Regions from separate parts of the Homo sapiens genome. Here region 1 is linked to region 2. Evidence: fine-mapped expression QTL. Tissue or cell type: spinal cord. Region 2 holds a variant in brackets; the other region holds the start of a gene. All regions are shown on one strand. Distances are between the middles of the regions.

Region 1 (8,182 bases), 38 kb before region 2:
ATGCTATTGCACCCTTAATAGACAATAGTGGAGTGTAAACATCCCTTTTATATGCACTGGGAAAGCACAAATCCATGCAACTCACTTTATTGCAGAGGTGTGGAACCGAGCCTGCGGTATCTCCAAGGTGTGCCTGTATTAGTTCCCTGGGCCCGCTATGATGAAGTATCACAAACAACACACATGTATTGTCCCATGGTTCTGGAGTCCAGCAGTTTTAAATGCAGTGTGTGGCAGGGCTGCACGTCCTCGGAATGTTCTGGCAGAGGCCCCTTCCCTGTCTCCCACAGTTCTGGTGTTTCTGGCAGCCCTTGGTGACCTTGGCTAGTGGTTGCATCACTGTGGTCTCTGCCTCTTTCATCAAGCGGAGCTCGCCCTGTGTCTCCGTCTTCATATTCTTTATTCTTATTAGAACACTAGCCATTAGATTTGGAGCCTGTCCTACATCAGTTCGACGACATCTACACTTGATTTCATCCACAAGCACTGTGGTATTTCCAGTAAGCTCATTCACAGGTTTGGGGTGGATGTGAACTTGGGGGGACATGATTCCACCTGCTGCGTGTCTGTCCCTCATCCTCCCGCGCACACATGTGATGATGCTTCCCTCAGCATCGCTGGCTTTCCTGACGAAGCCTCTGACTGCTTTTTGTTTCATCCTCACATCTCCCTTCCTCCTCACCCCCAGGGGGCCCAGGGAAGATGCTGACCAGGGGCTGTCCCCTCTACTCCCCCTCTGGTCCCCTGCACAGTGGGCCCATGAAGTCCCGCCTCACCCTGCCAGGAAACTCTCTGTGACTTCCATCGTCTATGAAGCCCATTCCATGCACCTGGCCTGGGTGCCGCACCAGGAGCCTGCTGTTCTTTGCACCATGAACACCTACCCACTCTCTCTGCCTGAAATACTTTCTCAACTGGGGACACCCCATTCACGGGCCATGTTCCAATCGGCTTACCTTCTGTCTCCTCTAAACAGACTTCCCTGATTCTGGGCTGCCAGATTTTACAGAAGGAGGCCCATCTTCTCTGTACCTGCCCATCGGCACGTGGAGTCATGAATACATACCTTCCTGCTCCCCAGTGAGTGTCACGGTCTTCACCGCATGCTCCTGAAGTGCTGAGCAGCTGAGCTGCCTGTCTTCAGCTTTAATCAGGAAACACGCATTCTGTGGACTGAGGAACAGGAGAGGCCGTGGCACGCAGAGTAGGGGATGCCGCCCTCCATGTTCTGGCCCCAGGAAAAACTAACCTGGAGGCAGAAAAACTCAAACTGATGAATGGATAATTATCCACTGAAAATTCTTTAAGGGGAACTGGTTTATACTTTTTTTGAATTTGAGATAACATCAATCTATTTAAACTACTTTTTAATTCAAATGATGACTTTGTCCCTAATAGCTTAAAAAGCAAAATAACGTACCTTAAACATGACACATACACTCTTGGAGGCTTTTGTCTGTGCATGTGTCGGAAACTGATGTTTGCCAAGTGATAAATAAACAGGTGCCATTAGGAAAAACAGAGGTTTTCACAAATGAAAGCTCCTTCCCTCTCCCACACCCGCTCGCATATCCTCCCTGAAGACAGAGGCCAGAAAGTGAGGCTTGCTCTTCATGGTGCCTGCCGACCTCTGCAGCGCTGGACCCCTGTGGGGGAATGCCAGGAGGCTTAAGAGACACTCCCCTGCCACAGACACAGTAAGGGTTGTGTCCACAGAAATTCGCTTTAATGTTCTCTAACTAGGACTTGACGGATCCATGGCCAGGCTGACAACTCCACACAAACGTGAAGGAACCTGACAGGCAGGTGCCGACATGAAGCAGGTGCAGGTGGCTCCGGGCAAAGCAGCAGCTCCCCAGTCACCATCCACCCCACCTGGGGAAGTAGCACCTCCCCCATCCAAGGTCCACCCCAACCCAGGAGAAGCAGCAGCTCCCCTGTCTGCCATTAACCCTGACCTGGGAGAAACAACACATCCCCAGCCACCTTGCACACTGACCTGGGAGAAACAGCCTCTCCACCATCCACCTTTCACACTGGCCTGGGAGAAGTGGCACCTCCCCCATCCACTGTCCAGCCCAACTTGGGAGAAGCAGCCCCTCCCCCATGTACCATCAACCCCCACCTTAGAGCAGCAGCTTCCCCTTTCCACTGTATACCCTGACCTGGGAGAAGCAGCCCCTCCGCATCCATCGTCCACCCTGACCTCTGAGAAGCGGTGCCCCCCACCCCCATGCAGAGTGCACCCTGATTGCGGGTGATGCCTGAGGTGTGGGAGGGGCGGGGGTTAGCTGCTGCCACTGCTTCTCGTTCTCTCGAGTCCTTGCTCTGTGCCTGCACGTCAGGTTGTTCCTGTGATGGGGCCACGTGCAAGTGTGCACCAAGGGGACTTGGCCGGGTACTGTACGTCCACTGGGACACACCCTTCTACGGGTATTGCACGTCCACTGGGAGACGTCCTTCTAGGGGATCCTCACTGAGCAAATGAAGCAGAATTTGGGTAAAAATGAATTTTCCCAAAGCTGCAGTACAGCTTTTCAGTCCTCTAACTGCCTGAGATAAATGTTGGCAACTTCCTTTTATATTAAATTTCATTTTTGTCACATAATACACTTGATTATTGACCATAATAACTTTATTAATATACAGACTGATTATTGATACTCACCGATGTATTTCATGTGTTATTGAGAGTCACTCATTTGGTTTAGAAAGACCAATATCACATTGAGTAATTCGAAACATATTTAAGGCATAGAACTTGCATTTTTTTCTCTTAAGCAAAATGAGGAGTTCTAGCCAATCTTGCTAGTGTTATTTATAGCATCTTATTTCCTGAGAGAAGACAGGAAAAGTGAGTCCCTGCCTTCCCTCTCTCCGTCTGGCTCCTCCCAGGCCTGTCTGGCAGGGGCCGGGGTGCAGGAGGAGGAGACGGCATCCAGTACAGAGGGGCTGGACTTGGACCCCTGCAGCAGGTACTCGGAGCAAATGGTGAGATCAGAAGGGGGATGATGTCATTCCTTCGAAGGAATGAATTAAACGTGCTTCCTCGTGTGTCTGATTGACAGCCCTGCACAGGAGAAGCGGCATATAAAGCCGCGCTGCCCGGGAGCCGCTCGGCCACGTCCACCGGAGCATCCTGCACTGCAGGGCCGGTCTCTCGCTCCAGCAGAGCCTGCGCCTTTCTGACTCGGTCCGGAACACTGAAACCAGTCATCACTGCATCTTTTTGGCAAACCAGGTACGATTATTTCTTAAACTCAATCAATTATTTAATGGTGCTCTAATTTTAAGAAATTAGAGTTCTCGAACTCTAAGAAGCGGAGAAGAAAAAGGAGCAATTTCGATTCTTAACTTAAGGTGGGTGGTGTATCTATTAACACTAAATGGCAAGTGTTTCTTCACGTGGTGTTTCTACTGCCCGCTTGAAGAGCAAGGCACGTGGCCGCTCCTCAGCTTTTCCTCCGTGGCTGTGCTTTCACCAGCCGGGCACCCCTTCCTCTCTGAGGGTTGTGGCTGCTGCTATTTCAATGTATATACCTGCCTGGGAACCCGGGTAAACGCTTTATGTTTTCAGTTTCCGAAGAAGAAGATTCCACATGAGAGTTTGTTATTGAGGAGAGAATTAGAAACAACTCCCGGAATATCTGAAAAGTAACTGGAGATTAGAGAGAGACTCTGATTGTTAACATCATTATTAGTAGATTAGAGAGAGACTCTGATCGTTAACATTATTAGTAGATTAAAGAGAGACTCTGATTGTTAACATTATTAGTAGATTAAAGAGAGACTCTGATTGTTAACATTATTAGCAGCTGAAAAGTGGTTTTGAACATAACTAGAGAGTATTTGTGGTAAGTCTATGGAAAATCCTGTGACTGCCGGGACACACAGCGACTTTTAACAGTCTTGGGGCAGTTTGCATATGAAAAGCGAGCTGGCAGGTTGCCTGGCTACCACTTAAGGAAGGTGGGTTTGGCTGCCCAGGACTGGGAGCTGAGCACCCAGGAGTCTGGTGTTTAATCAGACTGCTGTTGGTGGTGGACGGCCGGTAAACAATTAGCTCTCTGCAAAGCTATCTTTTACTTTGATTGTTCATACGAAAAGAGTTTTAAAAGACCTTTGCAAATTCAAACTACATTCTGCTGCAGACAGGCACCGAAATCTTTCTTTTGGAAAAACACAAGCATAAACGTGGATGTGTGGCGTGCAGAGGCTGGGGCAGGGGTGAGCGGCACTGGCTCATCCGTGGCTCCATCCATGCATGCCCGGTGTCCCTGGATGGGCTGAGGCCAGGTAGCCTGGCTGCTCATCCTTCCTGTGGGATGGAGCCTCACTGTCCTTTGACAATCCGCAGCAGGGGATGCTTTGTTAGCCTCCTGCTCTTGTAAGAATCTACCTCAAGGCAGAGACAGTAGGATCTGGTTTCGTCAAAGGAGTTTGATTTAGTTTTTCTAACCTGTCCTTATGAAGCTGGGCATCCAGAACTTTCGCATTTACCATCCTGTTCTTGGCTGGCCTCTGCAGGGCCAGCCCCACACAGCTGTCCTTAGGGGACTGCGACGTACCCGGCAGTGTGGGCTGATGAGGTGGGGAGGTGGGAAGAGCCTGCCAAGGCTGTACCTGAGCTGTGTATTCTAACACCGTTCTGTGGTGCTTACTGCATGCAGGTACTGTTCTAAGCTCATGGCCAAGTGTTCGCTCCTGTCATTAAACCCTCTTAAGAGCTCCATAGAAAGGCCCTATCAGCACCACCATTATTACTGCAGCTGCCTCGGGCAGTTAGAGTAGAAAGCGCCCCAGACCCAGAGGCACATTCTGCTCCGGTAACCCATGCCTGTGGCTCGCTGGGCTAAGTCAGCCCCTGGTGAAGTTTCATTTGCCGAATTCATCTCTCATGACAACCCGATGAGGTGGGCATTTTACATGACGCTACGTTTCATTCTACGGATGAGGAAACTGAGACAGAGAAGTTAAGTAAGTTTCCCTAGGTTGCACAGCTGGTGCTCAGCATTGCTCAGCCTGGTGCTGACTCCGGCCGCAGGCCGTGCTGCTTCCGGAGCCAGGACAGATGAAACAATCACCAAGGACCCCTGGGGCGGCACTGGGGGGAGCAGATGGTTTGGGGGGGGGGTCCCAGCAGCAGATGGGTGGGGGGTCTGCAGGTGCTGCCAAGCATTTCTCTTCTTCTGAGGAATGTTTCTCTATTCCTGGAAGGTGAGGATTTCCAGGTTACCAAATGTTGTTTCTGGAGAGGGAGAGTCCTTGGATTAACAATGAGAAGTTAACGGCCTTTGATATTCTAAATATGGGAAGAATTGGGGTCTCAGTCTTCCCTTCAACCTAGAGCAGGGTGTGACCAATTGCTGGAAGGGACCTGGGGAGCCCTGGGACCCTCAGGCTCATGCTCGCCCGGAAGAGGAGAAGCTGAGATCCACAGGGTTAATCGCCCAGCCGGGCTTTGGACCACATCTCCTGACTTCGGGGCCAGCCTCCACTGAGCTGTGCCAACTTAAAATCCCCAAGAATGGAAAAACAGGCCTGCAGGAAAATAAAGAGGCAGGGTCAAAATGATGGCTAAGTCAAGTGTTCTGTTGTTTTGTAAGTATAATTCACCAAATTAAGTTTATTTGTAACTTTTTTTTACAGTTGATATTCATTCTATTTAATTAGGTTATGCATAACTGTTTTTTGCTGGATATTTACACAAAATGCGTTCACAGATTATTTTTGTCAGGCTGGATATTTTTCTAAATTCAAACTTTCTACATCTAAGTCCTGTCTACGAGTCGTATGAACAGAATTACTCCAGGCAAGCGCTGAACTTGCCCATCTTCCATTTGCTCATCTGTAAAATGAGGACAATTAGAGCAGCACATACCTCCCAGGCTATTATGAAGATGAAATAATAGGAATATTTAGAACGTGATGTGCAGTGCTTGCCGGCAAATGCTAGCTCAACAAATCTTATAGTTAGAAGAATCCTGCTTGAAGAGTAAATTTCCTCCTTCGCTCTCAGTTTGCCACAAATCCAGTTGGTGCTGAGTTTTATATGCAAACTGTTATTCAATGGTCATGTGAGTCACTGGGCCAGTCTCGCTCACAGGCAGGGTTGCAGCTGTGGACTCATCACTAACAAGGGTTTCCTGTATTCCCAGGAGCTCAGCTGCAGGAGGCAGGATGGTCTGGAGGCTGGTCCTGCTGGCTCTGTGGGTGTGGCCCAGCACGCAAGGTGAGTGTCCTCAGAGCCTGTGGTCTCTCTCTGGCTTGTGAGATATGGCTTAGCTGCAAGGGGAGAGATGACAAAATAAAGTGTGTGGTTGGACAATCTTACCCGTGAGGACCTTCTAGCTCCTTTATAAATCAAATAGTAACTTACTTCTGAGCCAATATGACATGAGATAATTTATCTTTGGAAAATTCAGGTGTTAGAGAAAAATGCAATTCCACCTAGAGTTGCACAGTTTATCCTTTTTTCTATAGAGGATGTTCACAACACTGCAAGTATTTGGTGTTTGTTGAATTCTTTTTGCTCCACTTTCTTCCTCCTTTAAATATTTTCCCATGTGTTTACTTTTCTACAGTATGATTTTTAATGACCACATAATATTTCATCACAGATAAAGCCTGATCTTTTTCAATCAATTCCCACTTAGATTGGTTTATTTTCATTAGCATAAATGATGACACAAAAAATATTGACGTGGATAAATCTTAAGTAGCATTTGTGATTATATCCTTTGGATAGGTTACAAAATTAGAATTGCTGAATCAAAGCTTTTAATTCTTGCCAAGTAACTCTATGGAAAGTGGTCCATTGCCCACTTCTGTCAGCAACCCTGTGTATTATCCTGTTCTAATTTGCTAAATATTAGATGAAAAGGAAGGCTTTGGCTAAACTTTCTGTTCAGTGTATTACTTTTTTTTTTTTTTCTGGGACGGAGTCCTGCTCTGTCACCCAGGCTGGAGTGCAGTGGCGTGATCTGGGCTCACTGCAAGCTCTGCCTCCCGGGTTCACGCCATTCTCCTGCCTCAGCCTCCCGAGTAGCTGGGACTACAAGCGCCCACAACCATGCCTGGCTAATTTTTTGTATTTTTAGTAGAGACGGGGTTTCACCACGTTAGCCATGATGGTCTCCGTCTCCTGACCTCATGATCCACCCACCTCGGCCTCCCAAAGTGCTGGGATTACAGGTGTGAGCCACCGCGCCTGGCTTTGAATTATTTAAACTATTATGATTTTCGTGAGATCTGATCACTTTTCTTGCCAATAGCTTAGGTGGTGACTTAAAACCATTTGTTTCTGTACTTGATACTGACCACTCTTTCAGATCCTTACCCACAGGGTGCATTAAGAGTTGGAGAATACATTTTTACAAAATAACAACCTGCTGACATAACTGGTTTTAGGCAGTTGATCTCAACAAGAAAGCAACATACGATTTAGCCGCTTTCTGACACTCTATCAATAGCAAGGCTAAAGATCCATGTCTTTCCCAGTTTATTCATTTATTTGGTTTTTTCCTGAGCAATCAACTGGTAGACAGGATGGCTGCTTTTCAGCCTCAGATCTGAGATGGAAGAGCCAGACAGAGTGACCTGGGACATGTGCCAGGATGTCAAGCGAGGCCGGGATTCCCTCACCAAGAAGGTCGGGCTATGCAAAGGGCCAGCTGAACGGACAGGGCGCTGCCTGTCTCCACCGATTTACCTTCTGGCACACGCTCCTCGACCAGCCAGGGGCAGAAACTGACCCCACAGACCCGCAGCTGCGTTGGGCCCACACTCTGAGTAGCGGCACTGGCACGGAGGATAGTGGCTTTTCATCAGAGGTGGCTCCAGGATTCCCATAAAAAAGGGAGAGAAGCTGCGGGATATTGGGAGGCCTCGTTAATTTCCTTACACGCGAGGTTCTGGTTTGTCACCCTGGGTCAGGCCAACCTCGCCCTCTTCCCCTACGTCACCCTTCTCCACTGCGGTTCCCTTTGCAGCTGGTCACCAGGACAAAGACACGACCTTCGACCTTTTCAGTATCAGCAACATCAACCGCAAGACCATTGGCGCCAAGCAGTTCCGCGGGCCCGACCCCGGCGTGCCGGCTTACCGCTTCGTGCGCTTTGACTACATCCCACCGGTGAACGCAGATGACCTCAGCAAGATCACCAAGATCATGCGGCAGAAG
Region 2 (8,182 bases):
ATCCACCCACACATCCACCCAACCATTTCATTCACCCCCACTCACTCATCTATCCCATCCATCCATTCATCTCATCCACTCACCTACCTACTCATCCATCCATCCATCCACCTATCAATACATCCATCTCATCCATCCATCCATCCATCTCATCCACCCACCTACTCATCCATCCATCCACTCATCTCATCCACCCACCTACTCATCCATCCATCCACTCATCCACCCACCTACTCATCCATCCATCCACTCATCTCATCCACCCACCTACTCATCCATCCATCCACTCATCTCATCCACTTACCCACCCACTCATCATCCATCCATCCACCCAGCACTTATCCATCCATCTTATCCATCCATCCATCCATCTCAGCCACCCACCCATGCACTCATCCATCTCATCCACCAACCCACTCATCCCTCCATCCACCCACCCACCCATCCATCCATCTCATCCACCCACCTATCTCATCCATCCATCCACCTGTCTCATCCATCCATCCATCCCATCCATCCATCTACTCATCCGCCCATCCATCTCATCCATTCACCCAACCATCCATCTCATCCATCCATCCATTCATCCATCCACCCACCCACACACCCACCCATCTCATCCATCCATCCACCCAGCCCCATCCACCTATCCATCTAGTCCATCCACCCACCCACCCATCCATCTCATCCATCCATCCATCCACCCATCCATTTCATCCACCCCCACTCATCTATCCCATCCATCCATCTCAGCCACCCACCCACCCACTCATCCATCTCATCCATCCACCCACCCATCCATCTCCACCAACCCACCTATCTCATTCATCCATCCATCCATCAATTCATCTCATCCACCCATTCATCTCATCTACCAACCCACTCATCCATCCATCCACCCACCCATTTCATCCATCCACCAATCCATTTCATCCATCCATCCACCCATCCATCCATCTCATCCAGCCACCCAACCATCTCATCATCCATCCACCCATTCATCTCATCCACCAACCCACTCATCCATCCATCCACCCACTCATTTCATCCATCCATCCATCCATCTCATCCACCCACCCACCCCATCCATCCACCCATCCATCCACCCACCCATTTCATCCACCCACCCATCCATTTCATCCATCCATCCATCCATCCATCTCATCCACCCACCCACCGACCCATCTCATCCATCCACCCACCCATCTCATCCATCCACCCATCCATTTCATCCATCCATCCATCCATCCATATGATAGATCTCATCTTTAATTAAAGTAATTATATTTCTGGTTCTAGGTAAAACAAAATAAATCACTACCCATGGCCCAGTTATGCTAATTGTTTATTGCTTTTTTTTTTCTTTTTGTAGATATTTAAACAAGATTTGCTGCATTTCCGGCAATGCCCTGTGCATGCCATGGTCCCTAGACACCTCAGTTCATTGTGGTCCTTGTGGCTTCTCTCTCTAGCAGCACCTCCTGTCCCTTGACCTTAACTCTGATGGTTCTTCACCTCCTGCCAGCAACCCCAAACCCAAGTGCCTTCAGAGGATAAATATCAATGGAACTCAGAGATGAACATCTAACCCACTAGAGGAAACCAGTTTGGTGATATATGAGACTTTATGTGGAGTGAAAATTGGGCATGCCATTACATTGCTTTTTCTTGTTTGTTTAAAAAGAATGACGTTTACATATAAAATGTAATTACTTATTGTATTTATGTGTATATGGAGTTGAAGGGAATACTGTGCATAAGCCATTATGATAAATTAAGCATGAAAAATATTGCTGAACTACTTTTGGTGCTTAAAGTTGTCACTATTCTTGAATTAGAGTTGCTCTACAATGACACACAAATCCCATTAAATAAATTATAAACAAGGGTCAATTCAAATTTGAAGTAATGTTTTAGTAAGGAGAGATTAGAAGACAACAGGCATAGCAAATGACATAAGCTACCGATTAACTAATCGGAACATGTAAAACAGTTACAAAAATAAACGAACTCTCCTCTTGTCCTACAATGAAAGCCCTCATGTGCAGTAGAGATGCAGTTTCATCAAAGAACAAACATCCTTGCAAATGGGTGTGACGCGGTTCCAGATGTGGATTTGGCAAAACCTCATTTAAGTAAAAGGTTAGCAGAGCAAAGTGCGGTGCTTTAGCTGCTGCTTGTGCCGCTGTGGCGTCGGGGAGGCTCCTGCCTGAGCTTCCTTCCCCAGCTTTGCTGCCTGAGAGGAACCAGAGCAGACGCACAGGCCGGAAAAGGCGCATCTAACGCGTATCTAGGCTTTGGTAACTGCGGACAAGTTGCTTTTACCTGATTTGATGATACATTTCATTAAGGTTCCAGTTATAAATATTTTGTTAATATTTATTAAGTGACTATAGAATGCAACTCCATTTACCAGTAACTTATTTTAAATATGCCTAGTAACACATATGTAGTATAATTTCTAGAAACAAACATCTAATAAGTATATAATCCTGTGAAAATATGAGGCTTGATAATATTAGGTTGTCACGATGAAGCATGCTAGAAGCTGTAACAGAATACATAGAGAATAATGAGGAGTTTATGATGGAACCTTAAATATATAATGTTGCCAGCGATTTTAGTTCAATATTTGTTACTGTTATCTATCTGCTGTATATGGAATTCTTTTAATTCAAACGCTGAAAAGAATCAGCATTTAGTCTTGCCAGGCACACCCAATAATCAGTCATGTGTAATATGCACAAGTTTGTTTTTGTTTTTGTTTTTTTTGTTGGTTGGTTTGTTTTTTTGCTTTAAGTTGCATGATCTTTCTGCAGGAAATAGTCACTCATCCCACTCCACATAAGGGGTTTAGTAAGAGAAGTCTGTCTGTCTGATGATGGATAGGGGGCAAATCTTTTTCCCCTTTCTGTTAATAGTCATCACATTTCTATGCCAAACAGGAACAATCCATAACTTTAGTCTTAATGTACACATTGCATTTTGATAAAATTAATTTTGTTGTTTCCTTTGAGGTTGATCGTTGTGTTGTTGTTTTGCTGCACTTTTTACTTTTTTGCGTGTGGAGCTGTATTCCCGAGACCAACGAAGCGTTGGGATACTTCATTAAATGTAGCGACTGTCAACAGCGTGCAGGTTTTCTGTTTCTGTGTTGTGGGGTCAACCGTACAATGGTGTGGGAGTGACGATGATGTGAGTATTTAGAATGTACCATATTTTTTGTAAATTATTTATGTTTTTCTAAACAAATTTATCGTATAGGTTGATGAAACGTCATGTGTTTTGCCAAAGACTGTAAATATTTATTTATGTGTTCACATGGTCAAAATTTCACCACTGAAACCCTGCACTTAGCTAGAACCTCATTTTTAAAGATTAACAACAGGAAATAAATTGTAAAAAAGGTTTTCTATACATGATCTCTCTCCCTTTTTTAAAAAGAACTAGCAGGGTTTCTACCGGGGTGGGGGAAAGGGGTAGAAGGAATTGGCATTTTGCTTCCTGTCATGTAAGTAGGCCTGTGGTGTGATCACGGGCTATCTCCTCGCAAGTCACAGGTTAAAATGCAGGCTGAAGGGCCTGGTGGAGAAGGAAGCCCTGCTTGACACAGGTCTCTGTTCTGCTGAGCCTCCCAGCACGGTGTGGGATACAACCATTTAGCAATTCATCTCTCCTGCCTCTGCTCATTGTCAAACGAGGGAACAGAACTTCGTAGGGAATTTGGCAAACATGATTGAAATGATTCCGAAAAAGGCAACAGCACACGGGACCCTCTCCCTAATACGAGCTGTTCTTCCCTCTTGACTCATTCTTCTGAGTCAGGTGGAGGGAAGTAGCGGACCCCAGAGGAAGGGCCCATTTCCAACCACAGCACTGCCTAAAAATGGGCCGATCGGGCTCACCAGTTGGAGGAGGCAATGGCAGCAGCACAGAACGCTGGGGTTTCTTTAGCAGCTCCAGCTGCTCTTGTTGGGATTTCTGAATATTATGCAGGCAGACACAGAGAAGAAAAACAGGGAGAGAGGGAGAGAGGGCATCCAGAGAGAAAGGGGAAGAGAGGGAGGGAGAGAGGGAGAGAGGGCATCCAGAGAGAAAGGGGAAGAGAGGGAGGGAGAGAGGGAGAGAGGGCATCCAGAGAGAAAGGGGAAGAGAGGGAGGGATGGGGGAGAGAGAAAGAGACAAAGAGACAGAGGGAAAGAGGGGGAGTTGGGGGAGGGAGGAAAAGAGAGCAAGATGAATAAAAACAAGTATACTTGGCTGAAACACGCTGGAGTGAGTCAGACAGTGAAGCAATAAGATATAGGAAAGGCCGTCTGAGGCAACGGGCTGTGAACTGAAGGCCCTGGCTTTGAGTTGTGAAATGAGTGAGTTTTAGTTCATCAATATGGAGGAAAAAGCTAGACCTACATGTGTAAAAAGAAAAGTTTAGAAACAAAATAATGATGGCAGTGATAGTGGCTGGTCTATGGACAGCTACTGGAGGAAGCTCAATGTACATTTTACTCATGAAACAAAAAATACATATAATATGTTGAATAAGGATGCTTAGAAGTCAGGCATTAAAATGAGATACATTTCTC[C/G]TGCATTCAGGTTTTGCTGTCATTTATCGAAAAGTTGAGGTTTCCTGACAATCATGTTCCCTGTCGATGGCCTTAGCCACATCAGAATGGTTGTCTCCCAGGATTAATGTGTGGTGCCTTTGTGAGCTCACCTGGGAGGAAGGTGTCCCTGGACCTCGATGACTCCGTGCGAGCACCTGCCCTGTGGCCCTCCATCTCCCTTCTGCGAATCGCTGCCAGCACACCACGGGAGCTCCGCACCTTCCACCGTGGACCGGGAGGGCCGTCGTTCTAGACGCTGATGCTGCTGCTCACAGGGAAAGGTTCGGCCCAGGCCCACGCTCTGAGAGTTGTCTGTACAAGGCTCAACCAACTCGCCCTCAGGGCAGGCACAGGCCTTGGTCGTGTGGAACGAGTCGGTGGGTGAAATAACACATCTTCACTCCCAAGTATCCAAGCGTGGGATCTGTGATTGCCGGGAGGAGAGAAGCCTTCATACCGTGACCAACTCACTGGCTGCTGCGTGTCCCAGCTATAGGCTACATGGGGGCAGAGGGCTCCTTCCGTCATTCCTGGAGGACCAAAATCTTAGGCCAGCTTTGCTCAGTCTGCGTTTCACAAAGTGATGCTTTTGACCATGGAGCAAGTGGTGCCTAGGCCTTGAGGAACGCAGGTGTGGGGTGATCCAGGAGCTGCCACTCCAGCTCCACGGCCACAGCCCTGTGGGCTGCCAATGCCCAAATGGGAGGGCCCTGCTGAGGGCTATCACCCACACGAGGCCCTTAGCCCAGGGCAGGTACCTGCACTGATGCTTCCCACCCTCTTAGTAAAGTCCTTCTGGAGCCACCAGCCTGGGGGCCCAGGGGAGGGGCTGAAGCAAGCTGGGACACTCCTGCTTCGCCCGGGTGTCAGCCCTGTGCCCAGGGGAGTGAGCTGCGGGCCCAGAGCAGCTTGCGGCCCACGCAGCCGGCGTTAGCCTTGGGGACCACGTGGGCATTTGTGAGAGAGGTCCGGGCCCGTGCCCCCCACCCCGTGCAGTCCCACAGGGGCCCCTGACTCACCCTTCCCCAGCCCTTGCTCAGCGGTCCGGCCCCTCTGGCTCCCCTGAGTCTGCGCTTGGCCCCTTGCGGGTGGGGTGAGCGCGGAGCCTCGGCTGTCCCTGCCTCGTGGCCCACCCAGGGCGCCCGCCGCCCCTGCAGCAGTAGCAGGACCTACTGCCAGCTTCTCAGTTCCTGTCTCGGCCTTTTTCAGGCCGTTGAAGACTTTTGCCACTTTTCTGACTTTTTTTTTTTTTTTTTTTTTACCACATAAGGGCTTTTTCAACCCCAAAGCACATCAAATGCAGGATGGGAAGTGATATTCGACTTTCCGGCCTCCAGCGCACACCCCTGACGCGCGCGGACTGCAGGGCTTGGGTCGGGGCGTCCCTGGGAAGCTCAGCCGGTTCAGCCCCGGCGAGCCCCGCCCGCGCGCGTCCCCGAGAGCCGGAGGCCCCGCCGAGCGCATGCCCAGCCCTCCCTGCGCGCCTGCGCCCTCCCTGCGCCCTCTCCTGGGCCCTGACTGTGCTTGAATGACAGCTTCACTGCAGGGTAACCCGGAACCTTCAAAAGGCCGATTCTGCAAACAAAATGGTGTAGAAAGAGGAAGAAAGCATTAGTGCAACAAAACTCGATTGCGCTTCGTTTTATGTACGATTTATTTACTTTTAAAATATTTTTTCTGTTTTTAGATTTATTTTTCTACTGAAAAATTGTTTAGTTATCTTGAGGTGGGACAGAATTCTTCATACGACTTTTCCCATTTAAAAATGTAATTATTTTTAAATATGGCTTTAGGAATAAATTACAGTTGTTAAAATGGAGATACATATTATTTATATTTATGTATTGATTATTGAATGGTATATACGCAAGCAACATACACGTGACTATACATATGCATCATGAATACACAAACCTCCCTTGTCTCAGGCCATACTTATTCTGGATTTTAAAGAAGTGGAAAAGTTGGCAAAGTGTCAGAGAACAAGATCAACACATGGAAATCAGTTGTGCGTCTGTATACCAGACAGAAACAATTTAAAACGGAAGTTAAAAGTACAATACCATTTGCAATAACATACAAAACAATAAAATACCTCGTAATAAATGTAACTTGGGAGGCAGAAGACTTGTACTATGAAAACAGAAAAACAATGCCAAAATAAATTAAAACCTATATAAATGGAAAGACACCCTCGTGTATAGTTTGGAAGATTTAATTCTAATTCATTATAATATCTGTAGTATTCTTGGGTTATATGTGATATTTTGATATCTGTTTAAAATGTGTAATGATAAAGTTAGGGTAATTGGGATACCCATGACCTCATACATTTTTATTCTCTGTATTGAGAACATTACAATTCTTCTAGCTATTTTGATATGTACAATAAACTATTAAGCATAATTTTCCTACTATACTGCATGTGATAGCTCATTCCTTCTGACTGTATTTTTGTACTCCTTAACCAGCTCCCCTTCATCTTCCTCTCCACCATTCCACCCCAGCATCTGGCATCCGCCATCCTGCTCTCAACATCCACAAGACCCACTGTTTTAGCTCCCACATATGAATGAGAACATGCAATATTTGTCTTTCTGTGTCATGCTTATTTTACATAACAGAATGATCTTCAGATCTATCCATCCTGCTGCAAATGACAGGATTTAATTCCTTTTTATGGCTGACTAGTATTCCATTGTGTGCATATACAATATTTTCTTTGTCCTTTCGCCTATTGATGAACACTTAGGTTGATTCGATGTCTTGGCTATTGTGAGTAGTGTTGTAATAAACATGAGAGGGCCGATGTCTCTTTGATATACTGATTTCCTTTCTGTCAGATGCATACCCAGCAGTAAGATTGCTGGACTATACCAAACGTAGTTCTAGTTTAGTTTTTTGAGGAACCCCCATACTGTTTTCCCTAGTGGGTGTACTACTTTACATCCCTACCAACAGTGTATGAGTGTTCCTTTTTTTCCACCTTCTCATCAGCATTTGCTATTTTTTGTCTTTGTGATAATTCTAAATGGGGTCAGATAATATCTTCTTGTGGTTTTGAATTGCATTTCTATAATGACTAGTGATGTTGAGCCTTTTTTCATGTACGTGTTGGCCATTTCTTTTGAGAAATGTCTATTAGGTCTTTTGCCCAGTTTTTAATTGGGTTGTTTGAGTTTCTTATATATTCTGATTACTAATCCCTTGTTGGATGGGTAGTTTGCAAATATTTTCTCCCATTCTGTGGGTTGTCTCTTCACTTCGTTGATTTTTTCCTTTGCTGTGTAGAAGCTTTCTGGCTTGATATAATACTATTTTTCTATTTTTGTTATAGTTGTCTGTAATGTTGAGGTCTTACCAAAAAATCTTTACCCAGATCAATGTCCTGGAATGTTTCTCCGTATTATTTTTTAGTAGTAGTTCTATCGTTTTGGGTCTTGCATTGAAGTCTTTAATCCATTTTGATTTGATGTATGTATATGGTAAAAGAGGGGGGTCTCGATTCATTTTTTTCTGCATGTCTAACTTTCCTGGCAGTATTTATCAAAGAGACTGTCCATTCCCCAATGTATGTT

What was found. PIP is the estimated chance that this variant, and not a neighbour inherited with it, causes the effect.
Region 1: it holds the start of THBS2, and the variant in region 2 is fine-mapped to the expression of THBS2 in spinal cord (GTEx, PIP above 0.99).

What each region holds. Positions count from the first base shown.
Region 1 is chr6:169,248,783-169,256,964 of GRCh38, reverse strand. THBS2 (thrombospondin 2) reads left to right here and starts at 3,119. Exons shown (of 22, transcript NM_003247.5): 1 at 3,119-3,241; 2 at 6,159-6,232; 3 at 7,992-8,182. The coding sequence starts at 6,181. RefSeq lists enhancers at 3,533-4,044, 4,045-4,557, 5,070-5,583.
Region 2 is chr6:169,211,020-169,219,201 of GRCh38, reverse strand. THBS2 (thrombospondin 2) reads left to right here. Exons shown (of 22, transcript NM_003247.5): 22 at 1,373-3,417. The coding sequence ends at 1,380. THBS2-AS1 (THBS2 antisense RNA 1) reads right to left here and starts at 5,990. Exons shown (of 3, transcript NR_134621.1): 1 at 5,624-5,990; 2 at 4,715-5,028. RefSeq lists a silencer at 5,902-6,251. The variant C/G (reference allele first, on the strand shown) is at 4,584.